Regions from separate parts of the Homo sapiens genome. Here region 2 is linked to region 1. The links come from fine-mapping of genetic effects on gene expression. A gene starts in region 1. The other region holds a variant in brackets. All regions are shown on one strand. Distances are from middle to middle. Region 1 holds the start of CEP250 (centrosomal protein 250). Region 2 overlaps ERGIC3 (ERGIC and golgi 3).

The links. PIP is the estimated chance that this variant, and not a neighbour inherited with it, causes the effect.
Region 2: its variant is the best candidate, but not a certain one, in a credible set for the expression of CEP250 in lymphoblastoid cells (CAP, PIP 0.59).

What each region holds. Positions count from the first base shown.
Region 1 is chr20:35,452,782-35,458,150 of GRCh38, forward strand. CEP250 (centrosomal protein 250) reads left to right here and starts at 2,817. Exons shown (of 35, transcript NM_007186.6): 1 at 2,817-2,970. MIR1289-1 (microRNA 1289-1) reads right to left here and starts at 1,316; the gene lies at 1,173-1,316. It also overlaps a transcript of GDF5 not described here. RefSeq lists enhancers at 1,752-1,801, 2,062-2,211 and a silencer at 2,232-2,611.
Region 2 is chr20:35,549,067-35,554,435 of GRCh38, forward strand. The region is part of intron 7 of ERGIC3 (ERGIC and golgi 3); the gene reads left to right. Among named protein-coding and RNA genes, the nearest start is that of ERGIC3, 9.7 kb to the left of the region's middle. The variant C/T (reference allele first, on the strand shown) is at 2,779.

The DNA of each region.
Region 1 (5,369 bases):
TTTGTAACACTAGGGCTGACTTGATTCATTCATTCAATGGACACTTACTTGATACCTACCATGTGTGTAAGACTGTGCTAAATCCCAGGAATAAGTCTCCTATCCACACAAAGCTTAAATTTTGGAGGGAATGTTAATAGGAAAACAAAATAATAAATGGAAAGTGCTATGAAAGAAACAGAAGACGGCCGGGTGCGGTGGCGCATGCCTGTAATGCCAGCATTTTGGGAGGCTGAGGCGGGCGGATCACGAGGTCAGGAGATCAAGACCATCCTGGCTAACACGGTGAAACCCCGTCTCTACTAAAAATACAAAAAAATTAGCCGGGCGTGGTGGCGGGCACCTGTGGTTCCAGCTATTGGGGAGGCTGAGGCAGAAGAATGGCGTGAACCCGGATGGTGGAGCTTGCAGTGAGCCGAGATTGCGCCGCTGCACTCCAGCCTGGGCGACAAAGCAAGACCCCGTCTCAAAAAGAAAAGAAACAGAAGACTATCCTAGAAAGTATAGGGTATTACTTTAGATAGCATGGTCAGGGAAGACCTAGTTGAGGAAGTATCATTTAAGCTGGGACCTGAAGGACAGGAAGGTACCAGCTAGGCCAAGAGCTGGGGGAAAAGTGGTCTAGGTAGCTGGCATAGTGTATGCAAACGCCCTGAGGCAGAAAAGAGCTTGATGTGCATAATATTTAGATTGTTTCATTTGTATTTCAAATATTGTTGCAGTGAACATTCAAGCACAATGCCTGTTGTGGGATTATTTCCCTAGGATGGAATCCCACACCACTGCTTCTTTGCATCGTTTTCTCTGTCTAGTGCCTGGAGATGTTCCTTTTCCCCTCTCTAGATAGTTTGCCTTTCAGAATCCGTGTCCTTCCTTCCCCTTTTACTCTCCACTTTCTCTATTTCTCAAATTAGCTATTAAGATCTTTTTTGTGTTCTTACAGGAGAAAGATAAAATATAGCTTTTAAGCGTTCCTTTCTCAGGTTACCTTTGGCTGTGGATTAACCTGAAGCCTTGCTGTTTCACTCGAGCTATCCACTCATTCACCCATTCACTCAGCACTTATTGAGCACCTATTTTGTACCAGGCCTTGTGCTGAGCGCTATAGTCAGATGACCAAATTACAGTCTCTACGCTCAAGCTCACAATCTCATGCAGCGCTTCCTAAAACGTGTTCCCAATTATCAGAATCACCCTGGGTACTTTCTAAAATGCAGATTCCTGGACTCCACCCCCGGTTTAGGGATTCTCTGGGGGTGGAAACCAAGAGTCTGCATTTACCAGTTTTGTTTTTAATTCCTACTAAAAATTGAGAACCACTGAGTGCAAGAGTGAGGCAGGTAAATGGAGTTTACAACTCTAAGAAAGTGCATTAACAATTTATACACAAGGCCGGGCGCGGTGGCTCACGCCTGTAATCCCAGCCCTTTGGGAGGCCGAGGCGGGAGGATCACGAGGTCAAGAGAGATCGAGACCATCCTGGCCAACATGGTGAAATCCTGTCTCTACTAAAAATACAAAAATTAGCCGGGCGTGGTGGCGGGCGCCTGTAGTCCCAGCTACTCGGGAGGCTGAGGCAGGAGAATTACTTGAACCTGGGAGGCAGAGGTTGCAGTGAGCCGAGATCGTGCCAATGCACTCCAGCCTGGCGACAGAGCAAGACTCCATTTCAAAAAAAAAAAAAAAAATTTATACACAAAATGCTACAGGAATAACGCATGGGTCCTATTGGGAAGAAAAAGTTCTCTAGAAGTCAGGCTTAAGCAGAACTGCAGCTCCGGGACGGATTAAGTCAGGTAAAGGTAACACTCTGTGCAGAGACATGCAGACAAAACCGAGTGTTGAGTAAGTAACTCGCCTGTAAGTGTTATGCTGCCTGAAGCTTCTCGGAGCGTCTGAGCAGCAAGGTGAACAACCCTCAGAAACCGGTCGCGCTGCCAGTATTATCGCTAACCAGTGGCAGCGAGCCCCTTTGTTTCTCGGCAGTTGTAATTGTAGTCTGGTTTGTAGGTGGAGCTGTGCGCAGGCGCACCTAGAACCAGGTGACCTTGCACATGCGCTGTATGTAACACTGAAGCCAAAAGCGAAATGATTGAGGGCAATTTTTCTTTTCTGCTTCCGAAATGTCCCTTTCGCGAATCCAGAGACCCTGACCGTCCCCATTTCTGGCTAGGGATCTTATAATTCTTAAAATAATACCCCCTTTCCTTCAGGGCCTCTCTAGTAAGTCGGCTGCCAATACCCAACATGGCGGGAGGCCCTGCGCCGGCTCAGTCTGCCTATAGGTGCAGGACTTGGAGGGGCGGGCCCCTCCCAAAGGGCGGGAGTTTGGGGGGGCGGGGCCTGGCCCTCTGCCTCGGGGTGGGCTCCGCCCCCGTCCCCCGCAGGGCCTTAGCAGCGGCTGCCGCAGCTCAATCGCGGAGCAACTAGCCGGGCGTCTGCGGGAGCCGAGCGTGGTGAGGTGGGGCCTCAGGGGCAGGTGGGAGGTGCTCGGGTTAACCGTCCGAGGCCCGGAGACCCGCCCGTCTAGGGCGCCTGAGGGAATCCCGTTCGGGCAGCGGCCTCTTGTTACCCGGGAGGAACCCGAGGCCCAGAGAGGGGCTGGGACGCGTCGTTAGGGCCCGGGGCCCGCTTGCCTCAGCTTCTTGCTGCCGCCAGCACGCTAAGCTCCAGTCGGCGCCGAAGGAGAGCTTCCCGACCCTCGTGTCCAGTAGCCGCAATCCCAGGCTGGGAGGGTGAGGCGCCGCGCTCTGCCGCCCCCCCGCCCCTCGCTCCCTGTGTCCTGGCGGATTTGCACGTAATCTATCCGAAAGCCCAGTCCCACCCGCCACCCGACTCTGGAGCTCCCATTCTTCAGGACCCTGCTGAAGTATCGCTTCTCAGCCGCCTTCTCCAGGCGCAGCTGCATTCGCTTCTCGGTTTTTGCACTCGCTGTGCACCGAGTTACTTTCCCGGCCCCTCGTTGACACCGTAAGCTCGTTCGTTAGATGTTATGCCTTGCCTTTTTCATCTCTAGATCCCAGGGCCTAGCACGTGATGATAATAGTCATGGCTTACTGTACGGAATGATCACAAATTGTCAGGTGCTACTGAATGCATTACACATAAGGGCCCATTTATTTATTTATTTAGAGACGGAGTTTCGCGCTTGTTGCCCAGGCTGGAGTGCAATGGCGCGATCTCGGCTCACCTCAACCTCCGCCTCCCGGGTTCAAGCGATTCTCCTGCCTCAGCCTCCCAAGTAGCTGGGATTGCAGGCATGCGCCACCACACCCGGCTAATTTTATGTTTTTAGTAGAGACGGGGTTTCTCCATGTTGGTCAGGCTGATCTCGAACTCCCGACCTCAGGTGATCCGCCCGCTTCGGCCTCCCAAAGTGCTGGGATTACAGGCGTGAGCCACCGCGCTCAGCCAAAGGCCTATTTAATCTTCCCAACAATCCTATGGGGTGAGTTCTTTCTATAGCTTCACGTTTTACCCATGAAGAAACTGAGGTATTCATAGAAAAAGTAATTTGCCAGGAGTCCCACAACTAATAAGTGGATGGAGCTGGGAAACTGTCCCCAGGGCATTTGATGACTTGACTAGATTGCCTTTGGGTTTAATCAACGTCTGTTGAATTGATCTTTACTTTGGCCCTGGGAGTTATTGGAGGCTAGGCTTGTGATCAGTATTTTACCGCGAAGGCTTAGAAAGGAGAACTGGTCCCAGATTTATAGAGGTCACAACAAAACCAAGGCTACTGGTACGCCCTCTGTTCCTTTAGTTCTTCTATCTTTCTTTGCTCCTTTTCGATCAGAAAGCTGCAGACATAGGTGTCATTATCGCTCACTATTTAAGAAGTGCCCCTCACAGAGCTGTGAGTTCGTAGTCCATGCTTTAACTAATGTAATGTTCATGCTTTAACAGCTAATGTAATGGAGAGAGTGTAGAATTTGGAATCAGATTGGGGTTCAGTCATTGCTCTGCCACTGACCAAGCTATAAGTTATATGCCTCCCCCCACTTTTTTTTTTTTTTTTGAGACCTGGTCTCAGTCACCCAGGCTGGAGTGCAGTGGTGCGATCTGGGTTCACTGGAACATCCTGTCTCCCAGGTTCAGGCGATTCTCCCGCCTCAGCCTCCTGAGTAGCTGGGATTACAGGCGCCCGCCACCGTGCCTGGCTAATTTTTGTATTTCTAGGAGAGATGGGGTTTTGCCATGTTGGCCAAGCTGGTCTCGAACTCCTGGCCTCAAATGATCTGCCCAACTCAGCCTCCCAAAGTGCTGGGATTACAGTTGTGAGCCACCACACCCAGCCTGTTTTTTTGCTTTTTATATAGGTAATAGAGCTGTTAGCATTTTGCAAGACCATTGGTGATAATATGGATCATGTTACCTAATGTCCTATAATAGTCAGTAATAATGGGCACTTGTTATAAACCAGGCTGTGTTTTAGGTAGGAGCTGGGAATACAGCATTCGATAAAACAATGCTTTTGCACTTGTGGAATTTGCATTTTGGTAAGTATATTACATAATAATTAGATAGGGACAGAAAAAGCATGGTAAGGTAAATAAAAGTACTAGTGTTATGTGGAGAGGTGATAGTATTTTATTTATTTATTTATTTGAGCATCTTGTCCCAGGCTGGAGTGCAGTGGCGTGATCACAGCTCACTGCAGCCTCGAACTCCTTGGCTCAAGCAGCCCTCCCACCTTAACTTCCCAAGTAGCTGGGACTACAGGTGAATGCCACACAGCCAGCAATTTTTTTTTTTTTAATAGAGATGGGAATCTCCCTGTGTTGCCCAGGCTGGTCTTGAACTCCTGGCCTCAAGAGATCCTCCCACCTTGGTGAAACTCTGTCTCTACTAAAAATACAAAAAAATTAGCTGGTCGTGGTGGCACATGCTTGTAATCCCAGCTACTCAGGAGGCTGAGACATGAGAATTGCCTGAACCGGGGAGGCAGAGGTTGCAGTGAGCTGAGATCATGCCAGTGCACTACAGCCTGGGTAACAGAGCCAGATCCTGTCTCAAAAACAAAACAAAACACTGGATGAGATTACCTTGGAAATTAATGGAGATGGAGAAGAGGTCTGAAGCCTTGAGGTTTCCAAACTTTAGATACTGGGGAGATGAGAAAAGGCAGCAAAGGAGACTGAGTGGGAGAGGCCAGAGGTTGGAAGAGAGCAACAGAGAGGCCCCACATGAGATTTAAATAAGGAGCTGCATGCTAATTTGTTTTTTTCAGGAGTAAGAAACAAATTATGTCTGTACACAAATGTCTATACTGTAGTTTCTTTCTCAGTAAATAAAATGTTTGTGTCCTCAAGTATTTTTCTGTTTTTGCTTTAAGTGACAAATTCTATTTAATACCATTCTGCATC
Region 2 (5,369 bases), 96 kb after region 1:
AGACCTTACTGGCTGTGTGACTTTGAGAAGGTTTCTTAATCTTTTTGACTCCTGTTTTCTACTTTATAAAATGTTGTGAGGGCACTTATCTCACAGGGTGTGTGTGCAGGTTAAAGATGATAGCACGGAGCCTGGCTTGTGGTAGGTACTTGTTGAAATGGTAGCCCCCCGTGTCCGATGATGACCTGTGCATGAGGCTTTGGGAGAAGCAGAGCTAGGTTGGAGCACAGGTTCTGCCACACCTGGGCTATGTCATATTTGGGCCCTATTTAGTTGCTTCTTCTGTAAAATGGGGATGATGATAATAGTACCCACTCACAGGGCTGTTGGGGTGAACAAATGAGATTTATTCTCATTCATTTGTTCATTCATGCATTCACAAAATATTTAGTAATCACCTACTAGTCTAGTTGCTAAGGGTACAGTAGTGAACAATCTGTGCCCTCAGAACATTCTAGTAAAGAAATAGACAATAAGTATATAAAATATAAATAGTCCCCAATTAACAATGGTTCAGCTTGCAATTTTTAACTTCATGATGGGTATTACATGCATTTTTCACTTAACGATATTTTCTTTTTCTTTTTTGAGACAGAGTCTCACTCTGTCGCCCAGGCTGGAGTGCAGTGGCATGATCTTGACTCACTGCAACCTCCACCTCCTGGATTCAAGTGATTCTCCTACCTCAGCCTCTTGAGTAGCTGGGTGTACAGGTGCGTGCCACCACGCCCAGCTAAGTTTTGTATTTTTAGTAGAGATGGGGTTTCATTATGTTGGCCAGGCTGGTCTTGAACTCCTGACCTCAAGTGATCTGCCCGCCTCGGCCTCCCAAAGTGCTAGGATTACAGGCATGAGCCACCGCACCTGGCCGACTTACAATATTTTCAACTTGCAATGGGTTTATTGGGACGTAACCCCAGTGTAGGTCAGGGAGCATCTGTATATGGTATATCAGATGCTGTTAAGTCATATGGACCAAAACAAGGCAGGATAAAGATGGTAATGGGGAGGGGCTAGGGTAGGGCAGTGAGGGTCCTATTTTAAATATGGAGGTCAGGGAAAAACTCTTTGATGAGGTAATATTTTAGCAAAGACCTGAAGACAGTGAGGGAGCCAGCCATGTGGATGTCTGGGGAGGAAGTGTTACAAGCAGAGAGAACAGCAAATGCAAATTCCTAAGGCTAGAATGTGCTTGGCAAGTTCAAGATACAGTAAGAAGGTTAGGGTGGCTGGAGCAGAGGAGCATGCTTAGAAATGAAGTGAGAGAGGCCGGGTGCAGTAGCTCATACCTGTAATCCCAGCACTTTGGGAGGCCGAGGCGGGTGGATCACCTGAGGTCAGGAGTTCAAGACCAGCCTGGCCAACATGGTGAAACCCTGTCTCTACCAAAAATACAAAAATTAGCTGGGTGTGGTGGCACACGCCTGTAATCCCAGCTACTCGGGAGGCTGAGGCACGAGAATCTCTTGAACCTGGGAGGTGGAGGTTGCAGTGAGCTGAAATTGCGCCATTGTACTCCAGCCTGGGTAACAGAGTGAGACTCCATTTCAAAAAATAATAATAAATAAAGAGAGGTCACAGGGCCATATCATGCAGGGCTTGCAGGGGCATTGTAGGGACTCGGGCCGTTACTCTGCATGAGATGAGAAGCCATTGTAGGGCCCTGAAGAAGGTGAGGCATGATCTGACTTAAAAGCTCTCCAGCTGCTCTGTGGACAAGACTGGGCAGGGGAAAGGACAGAATCAGAGAGGCCCATTAGGAGGCAGTTGCAGTGATCAATCCAGGCAAAAGATGGTGGGGCACGGCCCAGAGTGGCAGTGGAAGTGGTGGGAAGTGACTGGCTTCTGGATGTATTTTGAAGGTAGAGCTGAGAAGAGTTCCTGATGGGCATGAGGGATAAAGGAAAAAGGAGTCAAGGATGCCTCCAAAGTTTTGTACCTGAGTAGTAAGAAGGATGGAGTTGCCTGTAATCCTAGCACTTTGGGAGGCCAAGGCAGGTGGATTGCCTGAGCTGAGGAGTTTGAGACCAGCCTGGGCAACATGATGAAACCTTGTCTCTACTAAAAAATGCAAAAAATCAGCCGGGCGTAGCGGCGTGCGCCTGTAGTCCCAGCTACTCGGGAGGCTGAGGTAGGAGAATTGCTTGAACCCAGGAGGCGGAGGTTGCAGGGAGCCGAGATTGTGCCATTTCACTCCAGCCTGAGCGACAGAGTGAGATTCCATCTCCATTAAAAAAAAAAAAAAGGATAGAGTTGCCATTTAGCAAGATGAGGGAGACTCAGGGCAGGTTTAGATGTTCGGAAATGGGATCGTACAGCTGGTATTCGGCTTTTGACGTGTTCAGACCAATAGCATCTGGGTGTCCTTCTAGACACCCAAGGTGTCAAGTAAGTTTTCCATTCAAGCCTGGAGTTCAGGGAGAGGACTTGCCTGGAGATGCAGATGTTGGCATCATCAGCATGTGTATAGAGCTGTGGGACTGGATGAAATCACCCTGGAGGTGAGGGCAGATGGAGAAGAAGGGAAGCTCAAAGGGCTGGGTGCCAGGCCTCCCACATTAGAGGCCAAGGGTGTCAGGGGGAATTGGTAGGGGAGACTGGAGGAGGAGTGTAAGCTGGGAATGTGGCATCCTGCCAGCCACGGACGGGTGTTTCAAATACCACATCAGATGCTTCTGGATGTCAAGCGGGAATTGACCATGGCATGTACATGCAACAGTCACTTATAGCCTTGACTGAGTCATTTAAGGGTGTGACAGGACCACCCTAGAGTGGGTT[C/T]GGGAGGGAATGGGGGAGGAGTTGGAGCCAGTATTGACAGCTCTATAGTGGAAATTGCCTAGGGGAGGAGAGAGCATGAGCTGAAGCTAGAGGGAAATGTGGAGTCGAGGGAGGCTTTTCTAAGGAGGGTGATGTAGCAGAATGTTAATATGCTGTTGGAAATTATCGACTAAAGAGCATAAGTGATGCTCCAGAGACGAGACAGTGACCGGAGTGAAGTCCTGGAGAAGGAGAAAGAAGACAGAATCTAGTGCCTTACATATGTGGAAAGTCCAAACTTAGCACCAGGAGGAAGGGCAGGCTCTGTAGGTACAGGTAGGGTGGTAGCTGGTGTGGCAGAAGTACATGGAGAGTCTCTTCTGAGTCTTCCCATCTTCTCCGTGTTGTAGGAAGGAAGGTCCTCAGTTGAGAATGAGGAGAGAGGGAAGGAGGTGTTGGAGATTTGAAAGAAGAAAAGATGTGACTGGTCACTTGGGGGTGGAAGAGTGCGTGGACTGGGGAGATTGAGTAGGATTGATGCAGCCCTAGGGCCTCCCTGGAGTCCGCGGCTGTGAATGCAAAGAGAGCGGTCAGCATGGTTGTCTGTGTGGGAATGGACTCAGTCAACAGAACATTGCAATTGCATGGGGTTTGGTGTTGCCAGGTGCCTGCAAAGGTGAGGGAGTCAAATATGTAAAGAACTCATCTTGATTCTGGACCACAGCATATGAGCTAGGAAAGGAGGAAAGACAGGATGTGGAGAAGCCAGTGAGGGGGCAGGAGGAAAAAGGGACTACAAGTCCTGAGTGTAGTGTCAACAAGTTATTGGAATTGGGGAACTGGAGGAAATTAGAAAGCTGGTGGAGCATGAGTTGCTTGAAATTGAAGTCACAGAAGGGGCTTTGTTAATGACAAAGTTTAGGGAATGGCCAACAGAGCAAGTGGCTTGGGTAGGCAGAGCACAAGATCAGGGAGGAAAGGATGTCCAGGAACTGGGAGGCCCGGGTACTGGAAGGATCATCTACGTGGATATGGAAATCACTAGAACGTGTGACAGAGGTAGTACAGGAGAGAGTGACAGGCAGTTGCCCAAGCTGTTGAAAAATGGCATGGGAAAACTGTTCTGGAGGTTCCATATCGATATCTAGGTGACTGAAACAAGCAGGGCTGCTTTGCCCTGAGCTTCAAAGCTGGGGATTTTTTTTTTTTTTTTTTTTTTTTTTTTGAGGCTGGAGTGCCATGGCACAATCTTGGCTCACTGCAGCCTTGACCTCCTGGACTCGAGATCCTCCCACCTCAGCCTCTCAAGGAGCTGAGACCACAGGCACATGCCACCATGCCTGGCTAATTTTTTTTTTTTTTTTTGCAGAGACAGGGTCTTGCCATGTTGCCCAGGCTCCTGGGCTCAAGTGATCCTCCCGCTTGGCCCCCCAAAATGTTGGGATTACAGATGTGAGCCATTGTGCATTTTTAAGGCAGATAAAGGGAAAGTGATCTGGAAGTGGCAGTAAGGAGCAAGAAAGACTTCTCTTTAGGCCAGGGAAGAGGTTGTGTATGGAGAGAAGATAGTCGCACGTTGAGGGGATGCCAGGGAGTTAGTGCCTGAAAGGAAGAGCCAGGCTGAAGCAAGAAAGTGAAGAGGAACCCAGGGGTTGAAGGCAGGGTTGGGGAAGGTGGGAGTTGGTGTCACAGTAAAGGATGGACAGAGCTGCACAGTGACAGAGCCCAGGGTATGAAGATGGCCTCTCAAAATGGTTGAAGTGAACAGGAAGAAAGGGCCCCCTGGAGGGTAGCTCTGCTGGTCTTCAGGGCAATCTGTGGGGGTGGGGCTGTGTTGGGGAGGGGCCAGTGTGGGGGCTGGAGGACCCTGCAGAGCTCTGGGACCCCCTCTTCACTCTGGAGGAAGCTGGGAGAAAAGGGTCTTGCTGGGAGGGCAGGAAGATGATCAGTGTCAAGCTGTTGGCACAAGGTCTGGCGGGCACTCAGTAGACACACAGCCAGAGTGGCAGCCTCTTGGCCTGGGACTGTTAGACTTGTGGATCCCCGGGCCGGGGGTGCTCTGTATTTGGAAGGATGTATAAATGCAAAGGTACAGTTGCCCAAGGCCAGAGATCTGGCTGAATTGAGGCCTGGGAGTGAGTTTCTAACATCCTTGTTGATTGGGGCTGGGGTGGGTAATAATCTCTTACAGTGTAAAGTTTACAAGTATTTTTCCATCTTAGATCCCACGTGATCCTTAGGACAGCCCTTTGCAAAGGAGAACACTGAGGCCCAGAAAGGGCAACTGATTTGCCCAAGGCCACACAGTCAGGAACTTGGCTCTTTGAGCTCTAGGCCTCTTGTCCTTCTAGGCCACTATTTTGCTCCTCTCTGGCCAGATTAGTTCACTCTCGAGGAGGGGCCCAGAAGGAGGCTTGTTAGCTGGGGCCAGACTGTGTTGCTGAGGCTGAATGTTCCAGTCTTCCCTCCTGCAACATATCTTGCTCTCATAGTTCTCATTGTGAAGCTCTGAATCTTTCTTCTCTCTCCTCCCTCCCCCATGCTGCAGTACATGCTGTGGAGAGTAAGTGGCCCTGCCCCCATGGAGGCCAAACCCCTACTTCTGGGGCAGC